Linked DNA regions of Homo sapiens. The protein of the gene in region 2 purifies or fractionates together with the protein of the main gene of each other region. This does not show direct contact. Each region holds a gene or a part of one and is shown on either strand. Other genes may lie near its edges.

Region 1 (3,655 bases), on a different chromosome or scaffold from region 2:
GTTGGTGGAACTGAGAAGTCACCATTTTGCAACCATCATAGTAAAGATCAGCTCAGGCAAGGATTGTCAATGGATGCTAAATCTATGGAGGTAAAGTGTGATAAGGAGAAGGATATTTACATGATCTTAAGGTGTTACCTTCAGATTGCTAATTAGTTACAAGGGGAAAATAGTGACTGTATAGTGGAGAAACCAGACAATACCTTGACTGGGTGATCAAAATTTACATCACCACTGAGGGGCAGGTCGACACCACATGTGTCCAGATGTGGCCCCAGAGAAGAACTCTTATGTAGGATTTGACCAGAGATGCATAATCCAAATCTAATCATGAAGAAACACCAGATAAACCCATGCTGAAGAAAACTGTATAAAGGAACTGGACTGTGTTGTTCAAAAATGTCAATGTCATGAAAGACAAAGAAAAGCTGGAGAACTGTTCCAGATTAAAGGAGACTAAAGTCATGACAACTAAATGCAGTATGAGGTTCTGTACTGGAGAACAACAAAATGCTTTAGAAGGCCATTATTGATACAACTGGCAAAACTGGAATACGGACTGTAGTTCAGATTAAATATTGCACCAATGTTAAATTTGATATTAGGTTGGTGCAAGAGTTCAATTGCGATTTTAGCCATTACTTTTAATGGCAAGAGTTCAATTGCGATTTTAGCTATTACTTTTAATGGCAAAAACCATAATTACTCTTGCACCAACCTAACAGATGTGTTTACATAAAAAGAATATCTTTTATTCTTAGAAAATACTCACTACTGAAGAAGCATGGTATATGCAACCATATTCTCAAATGACTCAGAAAAAAGTGTGTATGTGTGTGTATGCAAGTTGTACTCACGTGAATACTCACACACCCACACAGAGAGAGAAGGAATGATATCATTGTGGCTAAATGTTAAAAATTGATGCACTGGGTAAAGGGTTTATGGTTGTTCCTTACACCATTGTTGCGACTTTTCTGTATGTCTGAAATTATTTCAAAATAACAAGTTACAAAAAATTTAAAATTAAAAAAAAAGTGCTGTATCCCCATCATGTGCTCTGGACTGTGTTAGGGAACAAAAAAGTGTCCTCATGATAATCAACACACTAATGTTGAAAGAGCATGTGAAGTGTCTGAATAAAAGTGTGTGACATGAGAGTGCAAAAAAACAACATTGATTTTATATATGTAAGTGAATGATATATTAACAAATTAAGTATTATAGGTGGACTTTGAACTATATTTTTAGAGTCCTAAAAATTTATATTTTCAAGTAGACCTAAAACCTTTTGCAGGGATCTTCTCACTGGGCAAAGAGGGGATCACTTTGTATTCAGGCATATACAAAACACACAGCTGAAGTAGCTACATTTCTTATAAACCTCAACAGGCTCATCTCTGTAAGAATAAGGAATGTAATCCTCATCACAGCCAATACTCCAACACCACTACTGCCCCAGTTACCAGGAAACTTAAGTCCAAACAAATTTTTGAGTAATTACTAAATAGAATAATTAGTGAAACCAAGTATTTCTATTCTATCCCATCGGAAAGCTATTAGGAGTGAAGACATCTGCCTAACTCTACATGAAGAGCAGGACATGAAAGAACACAAAACCTGCAAAAATCTGAAAAGACCAATGTTCTCTACCAAAGGACTAGGAGAAGAATTACCCACTAAAGAAAAAAACATTCACTTTCTTTCGTTCCTAGCATTGCATACACGAATTAAGTCTGAATGTGCTATCCTAAACGGCACGGCCCCATCACAGAGCCTTTCCCCAGCCATAAGGCATGAACTTGTGAGTCATCACTAAAATGTCCATGTTAGCAGCACCTGGCATTCCTTTCCTAGACATCACTGGCAGAACAATGAGTATTCTTGGCTCTTTTTTTTTTTTCTTTTAAGAGACAGGGTCTTGCTCTGTCACCCAGGCTGGAGTACAGTGGTGGCAATCTCAGCTCACTGCAGCCTCCACCTCCTGAGCTCTTATAAACCTCAACAGGCTCACTCCGGTAAGCAATCCTCCCACCTCAGCCTCCCAAGTAGCTGGGCCCACAGGTGCACACCACCACACCTGGCTACTTTTTGTATTTTTGTAGAGACAGGGTTTCACTATGTTGCCCAGGCTGGTCTTGAACTCCTGAGCTCAAGCAATCCACCGACCTCAGCCTCCAAAAGTGCTGGGATTACAGACGTGAGCCACCGCATGCAGCCTTCTTCTTGGCTCTTGAAGTGAGCCTTTGTTCCTACTTTTCATAAAATTCAAGTGTTGGAATGAAATGAGTTGAGGAGAAGAGGAAAAAGGCCTAAGTCATGATTGTTTGGGCCTTGCTGAAACAATGTCAAATGAAAACAGAATCACCAAGTATTAAGTCTACCAAAGGATACACTGCTGATAGATAACAGGGGCCTAGCATGTAAGACCTTTCCAAGGCTGCTATGCTCAGGGTATGGTACATAAAGCTGGACTAGGGGTACAGGAACCCCAAGAGTAGAGTAACATTAGAGAGAGAAGAGCAACCACAGAGCCTTAAAGAATTGCAGGTTCCCAAAGGAATTCCCATTCATAAAGAAAAACAAAGGTAGACAAGATTCTGTGGACATCATCTTTCTCTTTGGAAAGGTGAACTATAAAATTGTTCTTGTTATCCAAGCATGTATCTACAGTAAGGTAGGCACTGCTGAATACATCCTCCACCTTCTAGGTAAGAGGCCTGAGTACATCCCAAGCTGTTGCTAGTCAAAGCACTCACGTTTCTCCTGCACGTAGAGGTATCCCTCCATGGTGTAGGGACTGATGGTCTTGTGCTCAAGGGGATTCTCCTTCATCTTTTTCATCAGTGATTCCACTTCTGATCTAGTGCCTTCAAAGCGATTTCTTGTCTAGGATGAAAATAATTTTATTCAAATCAAAGAAACAAAGTATCTGTTTTAACAATCCAGATCAACCTAATAGAATCCTTAGATCTAAAATGAGATAAAGGACATTCAACCTTCCAGGAACTGGCCAAATACTCCCTTATGACAAGTATACTTTGGCCTTAAAGTCCTATACCAGAATGACTCTCAAACTCTAGTGACTATCAAAATCACCTAGGGATCTTATAGAAAATGCAAATGCCCAGCCCTCACTCCTACAGATCAATTCAGCACCTCTGGATGCCAAAAAGTGTGTTTTACGATAAGCCTCCCAGGTGATTCTGATTCAGATGCTCTAGGGGCCTGTATGACTTAAGGACCTAGGCGTTCATTTCTCCAGCTGCCATGAATGTTGCTTGCTGATGGCTCACAGATGAGTCCCTCCTTAAAAGGGGAGTTCCTTCACTCAAGGTCAGCCTGCACCCAATGACTAGACAAGGCTAGAGGAAAGGCAGAAGGGGGTTGAAAGCCTGGCCCCCTTGCTTGTATTCAGGGCGACTTTGAAGGATCATCCCAGCTCCAGAGCCTCCCCTGCACTGAGACCTCTGCTGCATCTGCATCACAGCTCTATTTCCCCCTCTGCGAGTCCAGGTGCCCTCACTCTGTCACAGGTGTTTTCACCAGCATTGCCCCCACCTCCAGTAAGCCCACTGCATGTCAATCTCGATTTCAGAGCCTGCATTCTGAGAAACCTGGCCTAAGGGGAAGCCATGCTTTGTGAAACCTTTTC
Region 2 (3,387 bases):
CATGTATATTTAATTATTTTTTTAAAGCCACAATTGAAAAAATTCTTTGCCACTGGGTAGAATTAAATCTGACAGGAAACCCTAGGAGTTTTTATTAGTACCATTATTGTTTTCTTTGGCTCCATGTATTATGTCGGTAAAATGACAAAAAAAAAAAAAGGAAAAAAATTGTAAAAGACAAATATTTTGTACAAAAATACAAAGTTTTAAAAGCTCTTTAAGTATATTTCATATTATTACTAATAGTTGGCCTATATATCTGTATGTCTGCATATTTTTCCTACACTTGGGATTTTAGAAATGTATGGCACTGTTTACACAGTATATGCTTAAGTTCTTCCCATAACTCAACGACCAATGATAACCTTTTTCTGATTGGAGTGTTCCATACTTTGGAAGACATAATTTGTATAATCGCACGGTTACTGACGGAGGAGAATCTATGTGATTCAGTCCATGTGCACAATGAAAATCAGCATATCACCCTGGGGAACATTTTAGTTCCCAAGTCTTTGGGTAATGACGGATGGTAAAAAACACTAGCTGTCAATTTTTTTTCAGTAATTGGTTTTCAGTGCTTTTTTTTTTTCAATCTGATGAGAAGGTGATGCAATTAGAAAGGAGTGTCCTTTGCCTTTGAGAGCTGAAAATTTGCTCATGTGATCCCATCACAGTCCGTTATAATGCAGATGACAGTACTAAAAGAGAGAAATAAGAATGGGCATTAGTTTTTCTTAAATAATAAAGTTAATGTGCAATTCAAAAAAAGGGAACGTGTATTTTTATAGGACAGTGTCTAAAATACATCATTCAACAATGCTTATATTTTCAAAGAAATGTCTAGAAGATCTTATTTGGATGAAAAGATAAGTTTCATTTTGAAAAGCCAAGTTTCATTTTGAAAAGCCTATTCTGGGAAAGCCTGGTCCCTACTCAAATCCCAAATGGCCAAACAAAGCATACAAAAGACAAATCTGAGTTACTTGTCACCATCAATTATAATCCCTTGTTTAGATATCTGTGTTTTTCCCCCTCAACTGACCCAGCTGTGAGTTCCTATGTGTCTTAAGGTCCCTAGCACTTGGACCAATGCCTGACACATCAAAGGTGCTCAGTAACTGTCTGTTGAATGGCAATACGGATAATTTATGCCCCAGTTACTTCCAAAAATAGTTTGACCAAAATATATTTGAGGTTTTTGTTTTTATATGAACAGCTTTATTGAAATATAATTGACAAATTGTATAATTCACCCATTTAAAGCATATAATTCAGTGGTCTTTGGTATAGTCACAAAGTTATGCAATTTAGAACCAATCTAATCTAATTTTAGAACATTTCCATCACCCCAAAAAGAAACCCCATACCCATTAGCATTCATTCCCCATTTCCTCTGTCCCCTATCACAAACTTTTAATCTCATTCTGGTGAAGAAAACTAAGATGCCACATTCCAAAGAGGGTCGTGTGTTAAATGAAGCTTTAGATACATAGCCTTTGAAGTCAAGAAAATCTCCAAAAGCTGCTTTGGCTTATGAGCTGATAAGCAGCACAGACCATCTCCCTCTATTATGTATCACAGGATCTGGCCTATAGTAGATGCTCAATAGATACACGTGGAATTGAACGCTTGGCCACCTGGATTAGCTGTGTATGGATGTCTACGGAAAAGAACTAACATTGGTGCTATATCTCTTTTCTTTTTTGAGATGGAGTTTCGCTGTTGTTTCCCAGGCTGGAGTGCAATGGTGCGATCTCGGCTCCCCACAACCTCTGCCTCCTGGGTTCAAGCTATTCTCCTGCCTCAGCCTCCTGAGTAGCTGGGATTACAGGCATGCGCCACCATGCCCGGCTAATTTTGTATTTTTAGTAGAGATGGGGTTTCTCCGTGTTGGCCAGACTGGTCTCAAACTCCCAACATCAGGTGATCTGCCCGCCTCCACCTCCCAAAGTGCTGGGATTACAGGCGTGAGCCACCGTGCCTGGCTGGTGCTATATTTTAAAGAACAATTAACTCACAATATAAGATACTTATGTGGGTCAGTTAGTTTAGCATTCGTTGAGTACTTCCTACATGTGAGGCACATTTATTAACTTATTTAAATCTTCACAACCTCGTGAAGAAGATGCTATTACTATTTCCCTGAGGTTAATCACCTGCCCAGTTAATAAATGGCATAACCAGGGCTGAAACCTAATTGCAGTGCCTGCATTCAGGGCCCTTGTACTCACCACCCCTCACCCTTTCATAGGACATAAGCTGGCAGCTCCCTCTTAAATCCCATCTACTGCTCACCTGTCTCCCTGTCTTTTTCGCAAATGAAGTTATTGACGTCTTCACATTGGAAATCGTTCCACTGCCCAGCATAAATCAACCCAGCACAGTCTTCTCCTGGCCCATGGCCATGACCCCAGTTATCCGGCTGTCCAGCTTTCCAATTTCTTTTAGCAAAACAGAAATTGAATGTTATTTGCACAGTAATGCAGAGCTTTTCTTTACTCAAGAGCAGCAGAGAATATAAAAAAACAAAATTGAAGCATGTCATTTATCCTGGAATGAAAATGCAGTTTAAAAATCAGTACATGCTCTTATTCAGAGAAAGGAGCAGCTGTTTTGCAGAGTAATGCATAATGCGGCATCTCCCTGCGCGCTTGTGATCTTTGCTACCATGAACCAAACTCACTAGGCTGGTTCATCAGAATGCAGAGGGAGCGAATCTTGCTTTGGGACAGTTAGATGAATAACTTTCTAATGTGTACTGGAATGCTGACTTCTGGGCATGAGTGTATATATGTGTGTGAATATCTATTCATTATGAGGACATGATACACACACACACACACACACACGCACACATGATCTTGTGAGAACCCAGAGGGACCTTGTACATTTCAATATCTTGCCTCTAACAAGTCCAAGAGCCAGGAAGAGAAAGTGAAAGACTTTTGATATACATTTACAAGAACCTACAATTACAAATAACTGGTTATGATTGTCTGGGTGAGTTGTAGAAGGTTGATTGCTTTAGAAAGAAATAGTAACTTAATCTTACTGAAAATGACTCCTACATTTCACTCCCTTTTTTGGGAGAGAGATTCTTAAAAACAAGTTTTCTTTAGGATGAGTTCACATGGGGCTTCTTAACTTGGATGCTGCTGCTCAGAACAGCACCTTGCCATGGATAACAGTTCTTGATTACGTTTCCACGAATAAATCAGGTGTGCTTCCAGACTCACCCCTTGAAGGTTCAATCTTGTCTAAGAAGCAGATTCATGCACAGAAGCTTGTGGCTGCTGCCTGAGAGGACAAGCCTGCCTCATGTGGAGGGTCTGGAAGAACATCTGCAGCGGAGGGTGCTTCCTATAAACAATGACTCATTACCGCACT
Region 3 (3,655 bases), on a different chromosome or scaffold from region 2:
TTGGCTCCAAATCATTCAGTCAGAGCTGGTGGAGACAGAAGAAACAGAGGATAGAGAGGGTAACTGAGAAGAGCACGGGAGAGGACTCAGGAAGAACTGTCAACCACTCAGTGGAAAATAAATCCCATGGAAAACCTTGATCCAGGGTAATTGGGCTAGTCAGGTAAACACAGACTTCCAGCACACATTTCAAGTTGAGGAGTCCAAGGGACAATGACAGTTAACTAATGAAGCCGAGCTGGCCACTCATTACTGACCACTGGCACTTATCATCCAGAAAGGTGATGATGAAAGTCCTGGAAGTCATCCCCCTCCCCCTAGGTTGACAGCTGAAGGACCACCTAGACAGGCCAAGGACCAAGGTGGGGTTGCACCAACCCAGCAAGGTCCGTCCCCTAAGAGACCACGGTGGGCCTGTTCTCCTCTGTACTCCCACCACTCAGACCTTCAATGAGTTCAGGGCATGGGCTCTCCAGTTATGGTGCTCAAGACCACAGCCTGAAGCGTGGGAGAGCTTTTGACCACAGAAGTACTCCAAGGAGGCTTTTCTGGGACTCCAAGCCCTAGCTGTAAAGTAAGATGTGTACCTCCTACAATCCCAGGTGGGAGCCAAGCCTTCCCAGGCTGACTTAGGGCCTTCAATTCTGCCTCTAAGCTGAGAAGTGAGAGGGGAACAACAAGGCCATTCCTTCCCCAACCTCTTCCCAAGAGTAGCTGTATCCACTGCCACCTATGACTTCAGACCTAAACATCCACTTCAGCCATAACTGGGGACAGGGACCAAGAAGCTGTAACCCTGCCTTCCTTGTCTTCATAGCTACATGGTCAGGGACTCTAAAGAGTTTAGAATCTGGTGGGGTGGGAGTAGGGGAACATGCTGCCAGGAAAAGCCACACTGTCAGCATGCCCTGCTCGTTTCAGGGGCAAGAACTCAAAGTCAGAGATGAAAACAACCAATTATTCTCTGGGCCTGCCCTATCTCCTTCCAGGTAATCATAAGGTTTTCCAAAGGAACCAGATGATGGTGGGAGTGTAGGGTGTGGAGAACAAGATTGGAGAGAGGAGGTCATCTGGGTAGGCTTAGTCTCCTGCCGTGCAGGCAGAACAGCCTGTCCCGAGCTGCAGGCCCAGGCGGAGAGGCGGGAGTCTGGGAAAGGCAGCCGTGGTTTCTGGAGGCAGTGAGCTCACTGGGCACAGCTCCAGCCTGGCTGAGCTCACCAATCCCTCTCCAGAGGCCACCCTGCCCCCAGGCCCAACCCAGTCTGGCCACATGGGCTAAAATGTCTCAGCCAGAGAGACAGCTAGTCTGAAGTTAATCAGCACTCACAGCTCAGGGAAAAGAGGCAGTGAAGAGCTGGGTACAATGGCACTGTGCCTATAGTCCCAGCTACTCAGGAGGCTGAGGCAGGAGGATCACGTGAGGCCAGGAGTCCAAGGTTGCAGTGTGCTACAATCGCACCTGTGAATAGCCACTGCACTCCAGTCTAGGCTAATATAGTGAGACCCTGTCCCTTTAAAAAAAAAAAAAAAAAAAAAAAAAAAGGCAGCGGGCATGGTGGCTCACACCTGTAATCCCAGCACTTTGGGAGGTGGAGATGGGTGGATCACGAGGTCAAGAGATCAAGAACATCCTAGCCAACATGGTGAAACCCTGTCTCTACTAAAAATACCAAAAAAAAATTAGCTGGGCATGGTGGCATGTGCCTATAGTCCCAGCTAGTCAGGAGGCTGAGGCAGAAGAATTGCTTGAACCCGGAGGCAGAGGTTGCAGTGAGCCGAGATCCCGCCACTACACTCCAGCCTGGTGACAGAGTGAGACTCAGTCTCAAAAAAAAAAAAAAAAAAAAAAAAAGTCAGTGAGTCCAGGGGACTAAACCCAGGGCTAGGAGTTAGGAGAGCCCACCTCCAGGCCCACCGTACCATCTCTTCTTATTGACAGAAAAGTATTAGGGCATAAAAAGTATTATCACAATAAAAGCACCAAGTATAGTTTAAAGCTTTTAAAAAGTTCACACTCTCATCGGTAATATCACTTCTAGGAACTTACCCTAAAAAAGTAATCAGAAGTATACACCAAGAAATATGTAAAAAGGTGCTGATAATTCAGAAAAAATCCCATATCCAATGACTTGACCCATTTGACAGTATTATCAGTATGACAGATTATCACCATCTGACAGGTAATCACCATCCAGCCATTAAAATCATGTTGCAGAAGAACATTGAATGGCATATAAAGAAGCTGAGAAATTCACAGAATTTTTTCTTCTGTCACAAATCTACCAACAGATATGCTTTGTTTGTAAAACATATGAATAGGAATGAATTTAGATCAGACCTATGCTCCCCAACTTGCCCTGGCCCCACCATCCAGCCCACTTGACACTTGTAAATTCATTGTCCCTCCAAGCAACTGAGTTTGCATGCCCTGGTATGTATGTATAGTTCCATTTTTTAAATGTATATGCATAGGTAGAAAAACTACAATTTTAATAATGCTCACCACTGGGCAACTGGATTAAGAATTATAATTCTCTTGTTTTTGTGTTTTCCGACTTTTCTATAAACATGTATCACTAAAGTATAATTGGAAAAATGTCATTAGCAAAAAATAAGAAAAGACAGACACTAAAAAAAAGACGCTAAAAAAAGAACTGAACATCATTACATGTTAAAAACCAAGGCCAGCCAACTTCCAGGTCCCCACAGAGAAGGGAGAGAGCCATGAGACCAGCAGGGTCCTGTTTCCACAATGTACTTGCCCACCAACACCCAGACCCAAGACAGGCTCAGACACAACAACCCAGGCATGAGCACACAAACATATGGGCTCACTCAAGCACCTGCTCACCGTCCCTCACCTGCAGCTGAGTCCTGCAGGACAAGGTCCTCCAGCGCAGGCCAGTCTGTGTTTAGCCGCTTCACCAGTTTGTAGGCATTCACAGGGTGAGCCAGGTAGCCCTCAGCATCAGCAGCTGACTTGCTAGTCAAGGCTTCCATTTTGTTGGCCCAGCTGTGGAACCAGAGGAAAAGGAAGACTAATGCGTCCACCCACATAGGTCTTGACCTGTGACAATTTTCCTAGTGAGAATTCCCTGGTGCCAGGTTCTGGGGCCCTTTTCATCAAGAGGCAATGAAAAATGAATACAGTAACTCCCCACAGATACTTCTAGCCCCTTAATCTAGATAACAGCTGGGACCCCCAATGTAAGGGAAAAGGTCTTAAATAGAAAATAAACAGTGACTCCTTAGCCCATGTACTTAGCTCCTCTCAAGCACTGGCATGAAGTAACCAGGCCAGCCCCACATCACCCTCTCAAAGGTTTCCTCTTATAGGCACCCTGGATGGCTTCCTTGTTCCTTGAGGGGCAGAAGGGAAGGAAGGCCAACTAAGGATGGTTGGGGACTTAGGACACCTCTTAATCTTGGAAAGCTTGGCTTCCTCCACAAGGATGTACTCTTTCAGAGACTGCACCAGCTCTTTCTCTGCATAAATCAGGTCAGTCATGTGCCCTGCAAGGGAGAGAAGAAAGACACCAGTGAGAAACAGATGAGGGATGTCCAGCCTCCTTCCTTGGGGCACAGAATACCAGCACAGAAGCAAGTCCCCTGGGATAAGAACATGTCAGCTCTCTGAGGATTATGGGGACTTGGA

What was found.
Region 1: the proteins of COLEC12 (region 2) and ARHGAP26 purify together in Homo sapiens (affinity purification with mass spectrometry; one large-scale study listed by BioGRID and IntAct). This does not show direct contact.
Region 3: the proteins of COLEC12 (region 2) and P4HA2 purify together in Homo sapiens (co-immunoprecipitation; one large-scale study listed by IntAct). This does not show direct contact.

What each region holds. Positions count from the first base shown.
Region 1 is NC_000005.10:142,902,774-142,906,428, reverse strand, and holds part of ARHGAP26 (rho GTPase-activating protein 26), read right to left. Parts: intron 2,890-3,655; coding exon 2,760-2,889; intron 1-2,759. UniProt on the Homo sapiens protein: GTPase-activating protein for RHOA and CDC42. Facilitates mitochondrial quality control by promoting Parkin-mediated recruitment of autophagosomes to damaged mitochondria.
Region 2 is NC_000018.10:319,367-322,753, forward strand, and holds part of COLEC12 (collectin-12), read right to left. Parts: intron 2,442-3,387; coding exon 2,296-2,441; intron 699-2,295; coding exon 679-698; 3' UTR 1-678. UniProt on the Homo sapiens protein: Scavenger receptor that displays several functions associated with host defense. Promotes binding and phagocytosis of Gram-positive, Gram-negative bacteria and yeast.
Region 3 is NC_000005.10:132,214,336-132,217,990, forward strand, and holds part of P4HA2 (prolyl 4-hydroxylase subunit alpha-2 isoform 2 precursor), read right to left. Parts: intron 3,584-3,655; exon of another isoform or gene 3,514-3,583; coding exon 3,417-3,513; intron 3,014-3,416; coding exon 2,862-3,013; intron 1-2,861. UniProt on the Homo sapiens protein: Catalyzes the post-translational formation of 4-hydroxyproline in -Xaa-Pro-Gly- sequences in collagens and other proteins.